Regions from separate parts of the Homo sapiens genome. Here region 1 is linked to region 2. A link means that fine-mapping ties the variant in region 2 to the expression of a gene that starts in the linked region. Tissue or cell type: spleen. Region 2 holds a variant in brackets; the other region holds the start of a gene. All regions are shown on one strand. Distances are between the middles of the regions.

Region 1 (8,099 bases), 380 kb before region 2:
AGCTGGAGTCTCAGGCCCAGCAGGAACAGCCAGAGGTTTTGCAGCTTTGCCCAGCGGCTGGGTTCGCCGAAGGGTCTCCCTGGGGGTTCCCAGCATGAGCCGAAGCCACCCTCCCCTGTGGGATCTGTGAGGCCAGGCATTGGGCCTCTTTAGGCCTCAGTTTCCTCCCCTGTCATAGGCAACTGACAGTCCCTCTGGAGCGCCACTGGGGCTGCAGAGGGAGGCCGGAGAGATGGTGCCCCCCCTCCTCCCCGCCACCCCCACACACAGCCCTCAGCAGGATGGTGGCTGCCTGGCCGATTGCTTTTGCATTTGCAGCAGAGCGGGGGAGTGAGGCCAAGCTGAGTGCCCCCTCCCCCTGCCCAGCCAGCTCAGACCCAGGCGGTGGAGCAGGAAGGCTCTGGGGAAAACAGTGTGAGTCACCGGGCGGCCAGAGTGTGTCCTTCCCTGCTAGCGCACTACACGGCAGGTTTCATAGGTAATGATGTCATTTATGAGGCTCCCGCTTGGGGCTGTGTCTGAGTCAGCCTGGCTGTGTCGTGACCAAGCGGAGGCTGGCAGCAGCGAGGCGTGGGCACGGGCTCTGCCGCCGGGCTCTGGCCTCTGCCCCCTCGTGGGGCCCAGGCTGCCAGCCCCAGGCCTGGAACGGGCAGGCAGTGGGGCTGGGGGAGCCGTTTGAGACCTCGGATTGATGAAGAAGCATGCATTTTCGTGACCCTGGCTCCTGCCTTGGAACGGGGGGCTCGCATGCAGTGGAGGGGGACCCAGGAGTGAGCCCCGACTTCAGGAGGTTGCTCCCTGCAAAGTGCTTGTTGGGCGAAGGCCAGTGACATTCTGTGCGAATCCCTGCTGAAGGCAGATGGCCTCCGTTGTTAAACCTCCCGCTTAACAAACATCATCTCCGAACATACAGACACACAAACATATTTACATTTTTATAATGTGTATTTATTATTCAAATAGCTTGACAGCAAAGTGTTTGAAAACGAAGAGCAGGAATTCCGCGGTTCCTGCCCGGCCTCGCCATCCAGCTGGGAGAAGAGCATGGTCATTTCCTTCACTTAGTCCACGGCCACTCGGCGCTCATCCCCAGCACAGCCCTCCCCAGGCTGCGGCAAAGACTGTTGCTGTCCTGCTGAGGGATGTGCCCCCGGGGATTCAATCGAGATTCTGTAAGATGTGGGGGATGTGGCGGGGTGGGGGGTGGCTTCTCCACATCCCCAGGGCTCTCCTTCTTCCCCAGTGAGGTGGGAGAAGCCGCAGATTGGGGTCTGCTGAGGAGCGGGCCTACATGAGGCCCAGGTCGTGACCCATGGCTCCGGGGACCAGAAGGTAAACAGTTTCGGCACAGGGTGCTCCCACTAGGTCATAGGTGGATTCAGCCTTCTCTGAGAACCGAGAAGATTCTGGAGTCTTTTGAAGCAGGAAAGGAGATCAGAGGAGGAGATGGTGGCAAAGCGGGGACTGAGACTCTTGAAATGTGTTTATCCCAGGCAGAGCAGCCGCTGAAAGGGGAGATGGAGAGAGAATGTCAAAAGCAGCACTGGGTGTTTTCCTGGGGTCTCTCCACAGTGCCCCATCATTTCCGAATCACCAGGCCCGCTGGCACAGGGGTCTGCAGCCCAACCTCGCAGAATGACCCCCTCTCTGCAGGCGGGCATCACCCTGACAGCCCCCTCCCAGGACAGAAAACCTATAGACACCTGGCTGCTGGGTGTCAGGCCACCCGCCCGTTTCTCTTCCTTTCCTTCCAGCCTTTCCTCTCCCAACCAGCCCCCTCCCCACCCGGTCCCCCTTCTATTTTTCCTGGCTAAAACCAGCCACAGATACCACCACACCCGGAAAGAGATAAATAAATAAAAGAAAAACAACCTCAACTGTGAAAAGCAGTCCAAATCTGAATTTTTTCCGGCCTGAGTTAATTACACTTTAAATTGGCATGTTTACTGATCGGGGAATTTCAAGTTAACAGAGACAGCGCCCCCTCCCCAACTGTTTGTACAGTAGAACTCAGCAGGCTGGCGGGCTCCCCCAGGCCTTGGCAGGTCCTGCCGCTCCCCTGCCAACGAGAGAGCATAACAGAAACATCTATTTTTGAGTGTTAGAGAAAACGAAGATCTCACAGATGGCGGGAAGCAGCATTCTGGATGGTTTCCTGCACCCAGGCTCTGTGCACCTTCTCAGCAGCCTCTTGCCCCAGGAAAGACCAGGGCCTTTGGCCTCTCGGGACCCTGCAAGCTAGCTGCCTTGCACAGGGGGCTGTCTGCCTATCCCATCGTCGAGGGCCGAGCCTGGTCGAGGCTCCCCATGCTGTAGCACTGTCCAGTTGGCTCTGACCCCTTCTCCTTGGAGCAAGGCTGTGTGGGGTGCGGAGGGGGCTCTGGGCAGGAAGCAGGAGTCCCTGATGCATTCATTCACTCAGCACACACCAATGGAGCGAGGAGCTACACCAAATAAAGTGGTGGCCTGATCTCTGCCTTCTCAAGACCGACCCTAATAATGGGCCTGGGTCTCCCCTAGACCCCATGTACCTTGGAAAAATCCCATCCCTGCTCCAGGCCCAAATAGAGGCAACCAGTGGATCTTCTGATGGATGCAAACCCAAGGAATGCCTCCGGGGACAGGCCAGACCCCCAGCTCACAGCCACATCTCTCCTGGCAGAAGTGGCCTGATGTGGCCACCCCCGCCCCAGGCCTTGGTTCATGGTCGGGATCAACCGCAGGCTCTGCCGTGGGATGTCCACACCCTCAGGACCCGCCGGGTGCCCTGTGCTGCCCACAGAGGAGAGACAAGGCCAACAAGCATCACTGAGCACTTTCTCTGGACTCAGTCCTGTGCTAGGTACAGGGATGCCATTGTGCACAAGTCAGAAACAGCCGCGGCCCCAGCAGAGCCTGCAGTCTGGGTAGGGAGATACTTGCTGATCTAAGAATCAGAGCAGTGGATATCTGACTGCAAATTGAGACTGCCTGTGAAGGATGAATCAGGGAAGGCTTCCTGGAGGAGGTGGCCTCCCAGAGCTCAGCTTGTCCTTCCTTGAGGTCCTTTCCATTCCCAGTCCCCCTCTGGTCACTCACTTGGCCCAGGGCCTAGGGCCTTCGGGCAGGCAGTGCAGCTGCACAGGCAGGTGCTGTACCTGCTCCCCTGCACGCTGCTGGGATAACGGGAAAATGATGAATGAGGCCCCATCATGCCCTGCTTCCCGGCCCTCAAGCCCATTCCCATCCATGACAAATTGTCCCTCTACCTCCACAGGGTCTTTTCAGCAGCCTCGCCTGGGAAGCCTTGGCAGCACTTGGTGGAGATTTATGCCCATCTTCCCCAGATTCTTCTTTGTTTTTCTGCTTCTTTATTCCCTCAAAATATGCTTTTATTTATTCATTCCACAAACGTTCTCTGAGTGCCTCCCGTGTGCTTCCTCCTGGTGATAGAGAGATCGGGTTCAGTACACCCTCCTGTGTTGAACACCTGCTTTGCACTGGTGTCTATGGTCAGATTTCATCCAAGGAGACAGGCATGAACTAAGCACCTACTATGAGCCAGCACTGCCGAGCCAAGGGCCCTGGCTTCTAAAAGCTCTGCCACAGGGTGGCCGAAACCCCAGCCCCTTGGGTATTGAGGTCCTGGCTTGGTGATTTTGCAGCCCTTCTTGGTCTGGGTCGCCTCAATTTTTACAAAGAAGGAAGCCGCTCGTTCATCAGAGGTGGGTCTTGACCCCAGAGTCTCAACCCCAAAGCTGGGGAGACAGTGCTCAGAACAAAAGCCACAGCAATGCACCCTGCCCTCTGTGGACCTCAGTTTTCTTACCTGTCCAAGGGTGTGAGCAGAGAGGCAGGACAAGAAGGGAGCAGCCCTGACATTTGGGGGTTCTCTGAATCCTTGAGGACCCCTGACGACCGTGAGCTCCGTGGGTCTCCAGGACTGCACCAGCCAACGTGTCTGTGCAGAGTGGTGGTACACAGACAAGGGTGGGGGTGGTGAGGGGAGCACCTGGTCCCACCCAGGAGAGATCAACCAGATGGTCTCAGCGCACCCACCACCTTCACTAGGTCTTGTTCACTCCATGCAACTGAGGCAGTGAATATAGCCCTCAACTGCCATCAAGCGGAGTGAAAAACACAGGTCAACATAGGTCTTTGGTATTTGGATGCCCATCATGCTTTGAGTCTTCTGACAAAGCAAGCAGCCCTCTCCCCAGGCCAGACACGCACCAAAGCATCCCACTTCATGGGTGATGGCACCAAGTTGGAGAGATGACAGGTGAGTACAGAGAAAAAACCATGAATATTCTGGCAAGCTAAGTCTGGGGGAAAGTGAGCCTACCTCATCATATGATACCAAGAAAAGAGGCCCATTCGGTGAGCGATCTGTCTTCCAGGACACAGGGGCTATTCCTAAAGCCCGTGCAAGCAGGGTGGGTGAGAGCACACAGCCTGGAGCCAGACCCTGCCCCACCTCCAGCTGGGTGACCTTGGTTGACTCACTCAACCTCTCTGCGCTCCATTTCCTCAACTATGGAAAAGAAACTGTCTCCTCACAGCAGCTGATGGGGCCCAGGACCAAGGCAAGCGCCCCAACACGACAGCTATTACTTCTCCTCTTATCTCCCGCTGAAACAACAAGGAAATGGGAACGGAGGTCCAGGTTGTTCAATTTCCCAACCACGTCCAGGAGACATAGTGGGGATAAACCGGGCCCTTGCACTGGAGAAGGGAGCACACCTCGTGAACTTGGACCGGCGGCAGGGTTTACACACCGCACTGAAGACGGGACAAGTCACAGAGCCTCTGGTTGAAGGGTCCATGGAGACTTTCATCCTGGCCACCTGTGGGGCACACGTTCTTATTTGGCTTATCTGATGAGAAAGGCCCTTTGTTTATTTTTTCTTCTCCGCAAACAATAGATAAATCAATCATTTTTGCTTTTAATGAAATTCTGCATCAAGTGGCACAGGGTCACTGTGTTTGGGTTAGAAATCGGCGGGGAACATGCACGCTGCTGCATGCCGGGCCGACGCCGGACTCACCCCCTAATTCTCAAGTGGCGCGTGATGCACCCAGCACTCTTCCTGAGTGGTGGCCTGGGAGACTCGGCGGGGGGGCCGTGCCTGTTAACGCCGTGGTGTGCGGGGATGGTTATATTGAAGCTATTAAATAAGGCTAATGTCACTCTTCCCCTCACACACACATTTAATATATTCCAAAGATGTGTAGATGCATTAACAGCAATTTTCATCTCCAAATGTTCCCATTTAGTCAGCCCCATGCATAAAATATGAGCCCTAACACCACGCTCCAGCCCGTTGCAGATGGAGTTCCCCAGAGCATTTGGCTCTCAGCGCTGGGGCGTTTGCTGGAGGGGCGGGGGCGCGATCAGTCGGCATCTGCAGGGGAACACAGGGCCTGTCACTTCCTCTGGGGCTTTGGTGCCCCCACCCCCCGACAAGTGGAAGAGAGAACCCAGACCCAACTGACTCGTGCCTCCTGCAGCTAATCTCAGCCTCATCCTGGAAGGGCAGAAAAAGCTAGAAAACCAAACAGCTTTGAACAAATGGGAAGAATTTCTAAAAATCAATTAACATATTCATGTACTCCATCACCACATCTTATTGACTGCCTGCTTTGTGCCCAGCACCTGCCTGGGAATTCATCTGATCCGGTCCCTGCCTTTGGGGACTCCATTAGTCAATCAACAAACACTCACTGTTCTGCTACTGAACACAGCAGGGGATGAGAGAGAGAGAGAGAGAGAGAGAGAGAGAGAGAGAGAGAGAGAAATTTCTGCCAATGAGAAATCTCACAGTCTAGGGCACAAAGAAGGTAGACATTAACATTAGGCAATTTCAGAGAACTGTAAGCTAGGAAGAAAACAGTAACGGGGCAACTGGTAGAATGTGATAGGGAAGAGGCAAGGGGAGCTGCTTTTATAGGGTTATCAGGGATGACCTTGCTGAACAAGAGCCATTCCATCCCCTTGGGAATTGTGAACCCCTGGGAAAGGAAAATGCAAAGGATGTGGGCCTTTAAGGAAGGAAGGGCCAGAGCCTGGACAGGAGGCAGCCGAGGGCAGAGCAGGGCGGCCCAGGACCCAGCTCCGGAAGGAGGGGCATGTGCAAGGCCAGAATGAAGGATGAAAACACGTGGGGGATAGGCTGTGGCTCCAAAAGAAGAGGGGGGCTGCCACTCTGAGGGCCTGGGGGGTCCTCGGATCATTTTGGTACCAAGCCCAAGGGAAGGGGCCTGCAGAGGTGCCCTGGGCAGCGGAGTTAAACAGCTGGACTCTGCACTTGGAAATGCTCTCCCTGGCAGAGGGAGGGGCACTGGAGGGAGACCCAAGTGCCACAGGCTGGAGGGACCTAGCCTGTGGGGCGGCCTCTCCAGCAGGGCTGTGGCCCAGGGGCTGGGGAAGAGGGGTGCTGAGGGAGAGTGGGAGCAGGCAGCCCAGAGGGATGGTGCCAGGGATCCCCACTCCCATGCTAGGCATGGAGAGGAGCGGTCCCGAGGAGGAGGACAAGGGGGAGGGCAGGCACAGGCTGTGACTTCCAAGGCAGCGACGTCTCAACTAGGGGATGACGGGAGCCCAGCTCAGGAAGATCTCCCGAGCCCAGGAGCTCACTGATCAACAATGAGTGATAAAGGACAGCCTTAGCTCATTCTTTGGGGTCACTCCTGAGGTGCTCCTTGCCTTCAGCCCTGGACCCTGGGCATGGGCAGCATGTTCTGGAGTCACTAAGTCTCCAGGTCAGCTGCAAACAGGCCTCTGGTCATCTTCCTGTAGTCTGGGCAGGCCAGGGGTGCAAATATGACATAAGCATCGGGTAGCTGAGAGCCAGCCCAGCCTGGGGGATGTGCCAACCGGAAGCAAGGGCATGGCGGGTGCTCCCGCTGACACTGGAATTGGGGATGCCATTCTGTCACACTTCCAAAGCCCCCCAGAACAGAGTGGAGCTGGAAAATTAACAGGCCAAGTGACACAGGTCCTACACAAAGTCCACAGGGTCAACCAGCGCAGAGCCAGCTGCTGCCTGGAGTTGACAGCAAAGAGGAAGGCATCCAAGGTGGGATTCGATATCGGAAAGAGGTTGACTGTATAATATTCATCATATAGAAAGTGAACACCTCACAGGCAACCTATTTCAGGTACCACTGAGCAGCACTGACTCCAGGGAGGAGGCTTCTTCCACAGGGAAGGGCCCTGCCACCCACCCGCCTCCAGGATGGAGGCCAGCACAGGGCTGCAGGTGGAAGTCAAGCGCGTGCTCGGCCACCAGCCATGCCTCTGGGGGCCCACAGGGCGCGCAACCGGACCTCCCCGACATCAGCAGGTGCAGGAATCATGCAGGTGGGATCTGATACTGAAGAGAGGCCGCTCGTGTCTTGTGTGTCATGATTTCTGTGAATGCAACACAGGCCACCTCTCCTCAGGCACCACAAGGAGCAGCACACGCACACGGCCACCCAAGGCACCAGCTCCCACCCAGGGTCTCACAGCACTGAGATGAGCAGAAGGCAGCCCAGGTGCAGGGAATGCATGCAGCCGCCCCCAACATCCTGGCGAGGGGTGGGTGGCCTTCCAGCAGGATGCCTTCCAGCGGGACTAGCTCCCCCGTGTCCTCTGCCTCGATGACACTGGCCATGAAAAACAGACTGAGCCCCGTCACCATTGCTCATCAGCTTCATGACCGCCCCCCACCACAGTGCACAACCCTAGCATCTTCCCCAAAGTCCACATGGCCCCCCGAAAGCTCTCCCAAAATGATTCAATGGCGGGGGTCAGGGGAAAGGATGACAAATGTCACACCAGCCCATGCATTCACGTACCCTGGAAAGTCCCGCCTCAGGCGTGGCGCCCGCACACCACCGGGCGGTAGCGGTACTGAAAACAGGCCATCTGTGTTATATTCGTCATTAATAAAAGCGAACTCATCACAGACAACCTCTTCTCAGGTACCCAGAGTGCCATCGGCTCAAGAACGTGGCTGCCGCGTCCCGTGGTGCCAGCGCTGCCCCCGGGAAGCAGTCCTGAGGACGGATGGGACATCAAAGGTGAGAAGACACAGAGACAGGAAAGAGACCCCTGCCCGGCCCACTCTCGGTGA
Region 2 (8,099 bases):
GGAGGGGATGAAAGGGGAGGGGAGGGGAGGGGAGGGGAGGGGAAGGGAAGGGAAGGAAGGAAAGAAAGAAAAGAAGTCATCTCCTCAAGCTTGAGGCTCTGCTCTAACTCAGGGTGGGGAACTAAGCTGGGAAGGCTGAGGGCAGTGACCAGCCCGGTGGGGTGATCCCACCTTCTGTACCTAGCAGTTGTGTGACCTCAGATGGATGATTTAACCTCTCTGCACTGTTGGGCTACCTGTCTGTAAAAGGGGAAAATAATCCTTCCCCTCATGTACCTCTCTGTGAAGCCCACCACCCCGTGTGGGAGGAGGTCCTCATCCTGGTTCAGCAGGGCTTGGGTCCCCATTCCGCCAAATGTGTGTGTTGTGCCGTGGGTGCGCCCTGCTGTCCGGTGAGGTTCAGTCATTTGCCGAGGGCATGCGACCTGTGAGCACTAAGCAAGCCAAGCCTGGGAGTCTCAGTTTTCCCGCAATCCCCCAACCACTTCCCCAGGTGAGCAAACCAAAGGCGTAAACCGAGGCAGAGCCACCTTCCTGGCAGAAGGAAAGGTCTAGAACAAGGAATAAAATCTCCATCACGCAGTTTTTAAGATTCACTGAACCTTCTTGCAGCAAAAGCAGCTTACTTTCAAATTAGTCAGCCAGAGTGTGAGTCATTCCTTTGCAAACTCTTGTGCAGAGAATGCTAATGTGGGCTGCCCTGTGGATGGGTCCCTGCAGAGGCGCTCACCAGGGACCCTCGCCTAGGGCCAGAAGCACCCCCTCCCTCCAGGGACACTGCCCTCACCCCGCAAACACAGGGGCTCAGGCCTTGGGTCCCCCTCGCCTGCTCTGCCTACCCGCCGTCCAGCCTCTGCCTGCCTCCAGCAACAGGCCAATTAATCCCCCCAACCTGGAGCAGCCGGGGCCACAGCAGCCCACGCTGGCCCACGCTGACAGGAGAGAAGCGACCCAAGCTGAGGCCTTGCTGCAGACGCCCAAGGCCACAGGTCTGCTTTTCACCAGGAAGTGGAGGGCTGGTGAAGGTCGGTGTTACGGTAAGGGGAGTGGACGGGGGCACCCGGGGGGCTGTACCTCCTCCCCCACCCAAGTCCTGCAGAGGCAACTGGAAGCCCATACATGCCCACAGGCACTCATCCACAACCATTTGCTAACCTGCACTGCCCTGACTGAAGCTCCGGCCACACTCCAATTAGACTGGGCTGGGGGTGGGGGGCCAGGAAGGGAGAGTTAGCCCCAAAGTGGAGGAGAAGTTCCGGGAGGGAGGTAGTGAGGGAGGGCTTCCTGGAGGAGAGGAGGAGTAAGCGGAGCTTCAGGAGGAGGGAGGTAGCCAGGAAGCAGAGGGTGAGGTGGGGACGATGGGGCCATCCCAGCACAGGGAACAGGCATGCCAAGGCCGGAGTGAGGGGCCACATGCACGGCTGCCACATGACTGGAGGGAGGCAGGCCTGGTGGAGAGGCTGGAATGGGGGACCAAGGACTGTATCCCGAGGCTGGCAGGCCCCAGCTGTGAGCAGGGCAGTGGCATGGTCAGGGTGGAAGTCCAGACAGCTTGCCTTGGTTCAGAGTGAACGTGAGATGAGGACCGGAGCTTGGTCGCCGAGGGACCTGGGGCACAGTAGGGCCCCTGTGGGTAGGATGTGACCTCAACTGGGATCGTGGCTGAGGGATGGAGAGATGATGACGTTGGCTGAGGGATGGAGAGATGATGACGGTGGCTGAGGGATGGAGAGATGATGACGGTGGCTGAGGGGTGGAGAGATGATGACGGTGGCTGAGGGATGGAGAGATGATGACGGTGGCTGAGGGATGGAGAGATGATGACGGTGGCTGAGGACATGCTGGGGGCCAAGTCGATGGTGCTGTGTGAACCAGAGAAAGAGGGGCACATCTCCAGGGGTCCTGCTGGCCCCAGGCCTGGAGAGGGTCCCATGGAGCCAGGGATGTGGCACCTGGGAAGGTCCCAGAGCTAGCCACAGAGGCAGCCCGGGAGCTGACCATGTCGAGGCCACAGGAAGGCCACTGGAAACACTGTCCACCTGCCTGGCGCTGGCCTGAAAGAGAGAGAGCCACTTCATTCCCTGCATTTGACAACGGACAGATCCTAACTGACCACGGGCCCCCGCCTCGCCCTCCCTGCACGCAATCCTCAAACACGCATCTGCACCTGCCGCCTCCTGGCCTCTCCACCCACCCACTCTGCATGGGCTCCCATCATGGGGGCAACATGAGTCCTCTGAGACCATGCTAGCAGCGAGCCGAGGGCACCACAGGAATCCCAGGCCTGGTCTGGGCCAGTAAGGTTTCTGCCATTGGCACCAAGGCAGGCCTTTACCTGGACTCTCTGAAGATACCGGGAGAGCCCCGTAAAACAGAGATGGTCTCTCCTGCCTCGCTCCCTTGCGTCCTAGGCAGCCTAACCAGGAGCGGCCCACAGAGAGGTCATTTCTCCCCTGTGGCAAATCTGTCTCTCCAGGAATTAAAAACATCCCAAATGTCAGATCCAGCAGGAAGGCCCCAGGATGGAGCATTTGTTTGAGATCCCCTTTGCTCTGGGGCTTCAGAACAATGACCGCTCCTAGGCAACCAGGGAGAGAGGAAGAGGCCTGGGATCCCGGGACCAGGAAGAGGGGCTCCCTCTGGAGGCTCTCCCTCCTCCCCTGTGCAAGGAGTTTGTAGCCCTGGGGAGGGTGGTGGAGAGAGAGTGGGATGGTGGGCGCGGTCAGATGGGAGTGAGCCCTGGGCAGCCCCCAGGCCCCTTCAGCTGAGTGGCTCTTTCCTGCTGGGAGGATTCCCCTCTTCCCCTCCCCCTCCTGCCTCTCCAGCCCCCAACCCACTCCTGGTGAAGCTGCCTGGGACCCTGAAGGGACTGTGGCAGCAGAGGGGGCTGAGGTGGAGGGGGCTGAGGTGGAGAGGCTGAGGTGGAGAGGAGGCTGAGGTGGAGGGGGCTGAGGTGGAGGGGGCTGCGGTGGAGAGGGGGCTGCGGTGGAGAGGGGGCTGTGGTGGAGGGGGCTGAGGTGGAGGGGGCTGAGGTGGAGGGGGCTGAGGTGGAGGGGGGGCTGCGGTGGAGAGGGGGCTGTGGTGGAGAGGGGGCTGAGGTGGAGGAGGCTGAGGTGGAGGGGGCTGAGGTGGAGGGGCTGAGGTGGAGGGGGCTGAGGTGGAGGGGCTGAGGTGGAGGGGGCTGAGGTGGAGGGGGCTGAGGTGGAGAGGGGGCTGAGGTGGAGGGGGCTGAGGTGGAGGGGGCTGTGGTGGAGGGGGCTGAGGTGGAGGGGGCTGAGGTGGAGAGGGGGCTGTGGTGGAGAGGGGGCTGAGGTGGAGGGGGCTGAGGTGGAGGGGCTGAGGTGGAGGGGGCTGAGGTGGAGGGGCTGAGGTGGAGGGGGCTGAGGTGGAGAGGGGGCTGAGGTGGAGGGGGCTGAGGTGGAGAGGGGTCTGTGGTGGAGGGGGCTGAGGTGGAGGGGGCTGCGGTGGAGGGGGCTGCGGTGGAGGGGCTGAGGTGGAGGGGGCTGCGGTGGAGGGGGCTGCGGTGGAGGGGCTGAGGTGGAGGGGGCTGAGGTGGAGAGGGGGCTGAGGTGGAGGGGGCTGAGGTGGAGGGGGCTGCGGTGGAGGGGGCTGAGGTGGAGAGGGGGCTGAGGTGGAGGGGGCTGCGGTGGAGGGGGCTGCGGTGGAGGGGGCTGAGGTGGAGAGGAGGCTGAGGTGGAGGGGGCTGAGGTGGAGGGGGCTGAGGTGGAGGGGGCTGAGGTGGAGGGGGCTGAGGTGGAGGGGGCTGAGGTGGAGAGGGGGCTGAGGTGGAGGGGGCTGCGGTGGAGGGGGCTGCGGTGGAGGGGGCTGAGGTGGAGAGGAGGCTGAGGTGGAGGGGGCTGAGGTGGAGGGGGCTGAGGTGGAGGGGGCTGAGGTGGAGGGGGCTGTGGTGGAGGGGGCTGAGGTGGAGGGGGCTGAGGTGGAGAGGGGGCTGTGGTGGAGAGGGGGCTGAGGTGGAGGGGGCTGCGGTGGAGGGGGCTGCGGTGGAGGGGACTGAGGTGGAGGGGGCTGAGGTGGAGGGGGCTGTGGTGGAGGGGGCTGTGGTGGAGGGGGCTGCGGTGGAGGGGGCTGAGGTGGAGGGGGCTGAGGTGGAGGGGTAGCAGGGTTTGGTTCCCTCGAGGTCCTGGGAGGGCGCAAAAAGTAACAGAGGACACCTGGCCGAGAAGGAAATGTGAGCCAACCCCGCAAGTCTGAGCACAGATTGGGTCCAGCTTTCTTGTTGTTGTTGTTGTTCTATCTTTAAAGAAAGGATGAGAGCCTTAAGCATTAAAGCCCATTCTGATAAAAGTAGGGAAGCACCCGTCTGACCCCACGCCCCACCCAGCCGCCCCCAGTTCTGTTGCGGCAGCCTGAGGCACGGCCGGATTTGATCTCTGCCCGCTCCCCTGTCTTGTTTCATTAGCTGACTCTGTGTTTGAGGGTTTTATTGTTTTTGAGTTTGTTTGTTGTTTTTTTTTCAAACAGGGTCTCTCTCTGCCACACAGGCTGGAGTGCAGTGGTGCAATCATAGCT[C/T]ACTGAAACCTTGAATTCCTGGGCTCAATTGATCCTCCCACCTCAGCCTCCAGAGTAGCTGGGACTACAGGTCCACCATGCCCAGCTAATTTTTTTTTTTTTTTTTTTTTTTTTTTGCTAGTGATGGTCTCTTACTATGTTGCCCAGACTGACCTTGAGCTCCCAGGCTCAAGCAATCCTGACTCGGCCTCCCAAAGTTCTGGGATTCCAGGTGTGAGCCACCACGCCCAGCCTGTTGGAGGTTTTTTAAGCATGCACAAATACACACACACACAGAGGTCTCACCCCTGAAGCTTCCACTTCCAAGTGATGAAACTGACAGATTTTAGCTACCGTGAGAGTAACCAGGTAAAATTCCCTAGAGGAAACTTCTGGGGACAGGGTCAACATGAGTGGCATTTTCACCAGGGGGCTTCGGCGCCATACTGGTCTGATTTTCCCTTCTCTATGGAGGGGTTCCTGTTGCCCCGTCTCTGGCATCTATTACGGGTTTAGCTGTCCTGGTGTTACCCAGGGCAGAGGCCACCTCCGATTTTCAGGGTCAAACTCACACCGCGTGGAACACCTTCAGGAAAATGATTTTTCCCTTCTTTGGAGGTGGTTTTCTTAGAAGCATATCTCCAGGAGGAGGAGGACTGCTTAACAAGGGGCATCTGGCCTTTGATAACTCTTCCTACGTGCTTGCCTATTCATTTCCAAAGAGGCTATATCATTTTCAAGTCCTCTAATGCATTGGTGACAATTTCATCACAGCACTGGGGTGTCATTACGTGCAAAATGATCTGATATCTCAGTACCGGTACTTCCCCAGAAAACAGAGAGCCGAGGTCTGTTTTGTTTCTTCCCTTCATCTCTGGAACCACCTTTTCACTGTTATTTTTATTCAATTATGCTACATAAACGTGCTTATTTCTATGATTCCTGCCCTAACACATGGCACTTTCATGCGGTTCAACCCAAAACTAAAGATGTAAGTGGCAGGCTACAACAGGCTATTGAGAGAGCAAAGACCAAATGGCCATTTCTCCTTCCCTCTGGCAGGAAATCCTGAGATGACTTTTCAACATGACATTCAATTTTAGGAAATTAATTCCATCCTCTGACCTGCTTGTTCTTCTAAGGCCGGCGTCAGCCAAACAGCAAGACAGTCAGGTCTCTGAAGCGTCTGATATTGCAGGGGCCAAAGGGGCTGCACGACTCTGGTGCATCCCATAATTGTCTGCTTTTGTCCTGCTGGGCGGACGTCAGGGAGCCTTACCTGGCTTTCTAACTTGGAGCATGTCCCCAGAACCTTTATCTTCTGCAGCCTCTTCCCTAGCTCAGACATGGCCGGCCCCTTCCCTGGAGCTCTGGGCTGGAGGCCAGGAGCCCTGGGCTTTCTTCCTTTAAGAGAGGGCTCTGACCAACAAGCGTGAGGGTGAGGAAGGAAGGAAGAGAAGAAGAGTGACATGCAGACTTCTGATGAGATCTTTCGTAATAGCTTGACAGCAAAGGACGGTTATTGTGAACCATACTGATTTAATGAACTCTTAATGAAATACAAATCTTGATTTTATTTTTTTCTTGAGATGGAGTTTCACTCTTGTTGCCCAGGTTGGAGTGCAATGGCACGATCTTGGCTCACTGCAACCTCCACCTCCCGGGTTCAAGCGATTCTTCTGCCTCAGCCTCCTGAGTAGCTGGGATTACAGGCATGTACCACCACGCCCGGCTAATTTTGTATTTTTAGCAGGGGTGGGGTTTCACCATGTTGGTCAGGCTGGTCTCGAACTCCCGACCTCAGGTGATCCGCCCGCCTCGGCCTCCCAAAGTGCTGGGATTACAGGCGTGAACCACCGCACCCAGCCTAAATCTTGATTTTTTAATTGTAGTAAAAGAATCTTTACCATCTTCACCATTTTTAAGTGTACATTTCAGTGGTATTAAGTACATTTCCACTGGTGTGCAATCATCACCACTGTCTGTCTCCAGAACAACTTTCGTCCTGCAAAACTGAAACCCCAAAAGATTAAACACTAACTCCCTATTCCCTGTCCCCCAGCCCTGGCAGCCTCCATCCTACTTTCTGTCTCTATGATTTTGACTCCTTCACATAAAGGGAATCATATTTAACTTTTTGTGACAGGCTTATTTCACCCAACATAATGTCCTCAAGTTCACCCATGTTGTAGCCTGGGCCAGCATTTCCTTCCTTTTCAGGGCTGAATAGTATTCCATCGTGTGGACTGACCACATTTTGTTTCTCCATCCACCCTTCAGTGGCCACTCAGCTGTGTCCACCTTCTGGCTACTGTGTGTGATGCTGCTATGATCATGTGTGCACAGATAGGAAGCATATCTTCAGAGTGTGTGTGGAGTTGGGAGGGTCCAGCTTCTCTTCAACCCTTGGGAGAGGCTTCCAGAGGAGAAACGGAGCTGCCATGGGCAATGTGGGCAGAGTTAGGAGGAGGTGGGCTCTGGCTCTCCCTGTTCCTTCCCTCTGGTCCTGGAAGCCTCTCTTTGAGGCCAGCTGAAGGAAGACCCTTGCAAAGGGAGAGACTGGCCTCTGTGTCCAGTTGGAAGACCCTGGCAGCGTCAACATGCTCCAGGTCCATATGGCCCCTCCTTCCCATAGTCAGGCAGCAGAAGACCCTTTCATCAGGATTCAGGGGGCGCGGGCCTCCAGGCTCACTTTCACGTAGCCACAGCCCCACTTACAGATGGAAAACCAAAGCCGTGGTCCTACTGGAGGCTGGCCCGCCCCTGCCAGCCCCTCTGTGGTTCCCAGCCCCTCCAGCACGTTGAGCAGAGACAGCTGCCAAGAGACTTGGGTAACAGATGATTCCTCAGACCTGGGCACTTTTCATGTGATTGAATGCACACTTACAGAAGGGCCAGCTCTGAGTCTGCCAAGGGGCAGGCCCATACTTCAACTCCCCAAGGCTCGTCCAGACTGAGTGCTAAGTCTCCATCAGAAGCTATGAGACTCTGGCCACCTACTTCGGGGACAGAAAAACCTGCCTGTGGGGACCTTTGGCGTCCAGTCCTCTCCACAACCCGGAGCACACGGCACGTTCCCATTGGCGCTTTCACAGTGCAGATGAGCAAGCCGAGGCCCAGACAGCTTGCACCATGATGAGCAGGGTATGGGGAATGAACTCAGCTCCGGGGGGCAGCAGCGTCCCCTCCACAACCACAGCTGCCTCCCCAGGAGTCCATCAAAGTCCTGCAGAGCCCCCGGAGCCCCCCACAGACAATCCCTGGCAGGGGACGGAGTGAACCTTCTCTCCTTGGAGTGCCCCTGTGAGCATCAGGGTTACGGGGCAGGAGGCAGATCCCCGCCCACCCTCCCCTCAGCTCAGCCTGTCCTCCCCATCTTCTCATAGCTGCTCACACCCAGTGCCACTGCCCCCCGCCAGCTTCTACCCCCACTCCCAAGGATGCCAAGGACCCAGGTTACCAGGCCGATGACACCCCTCCCGGCTCCTGTCGTGGCCACCCCAGGCAGCCGACTGGTCCCTCCTGCTGAAACACCTCTTCCTGTGGCTTTGGGACCCGAGTCCCCCTCCTCTTTGAAGACCCCTTCCCAG

Alleles and levels. Positions count from the first base shown, and alleles are read on the strand shown. Sizes are in standard deviations (SD) of each study's normalised expression.
For the expression in spleen of the gene that starts at base 3,953 in region 1, T is the low allele of the variant in region 2 and C is the other (large effect, 1.3 SD a copy in GTEx).

What was found. PIP is the estimated chance that this variant, and not a neighbour inherited with it, causes the effect.
Region 1: MEG9 starts here. The variant in region 2 is fine-mapped to the expression of MEG9 in spleen (GTEx, PIP 0.92).

Annotation. Positions count from the first base shown.
Region 1 is chr14:101,065,765-101,073,863 of GRCh38, reverse strand. MEG9 (maternally expressed 9) reads right to left here and starts at 3,953. Exons shown (of 2, transcript NR_047664.1): 1 at 3,809-3,953; 2 at 927-3,422. MIR410 (microRNA 410) reads right to left here and starts at 7,952; the gene lies at 7,873-7,952. It overlaps MIR656 (microRNA 656), which reads right to left and starts at 7,140; the gene lies at 7,063-7,140. LOC105370670 (a long non-coding RNA gene) reads left to right here. Exons shown (of 5, transcript NR_188195.1): 4 at 1-478; 5 at 964-1,886.
Region 2 is chr14:100,681,594-100,689,692 of GRCh38, reverse strand. LOC105370668 (a long non-coding RNA gene) reads right to left here and starts at 2,759. Exons shown (of 3, transcript XR_001750887.2): 1 at 2,336-2,759; 2 at 1,953-2,054; 3 at 1,777-1,862. It overlaps LOC124903385 (a long non-coding RNA gene), which reads right to left and starts at 362. Exons shown (of 3, transcript XR_007064339.1): 1 at 277-362. RefSeq lists an enhancer at 1-755. The variant C/T (reference allele first, on the strand shown) is at 4,531.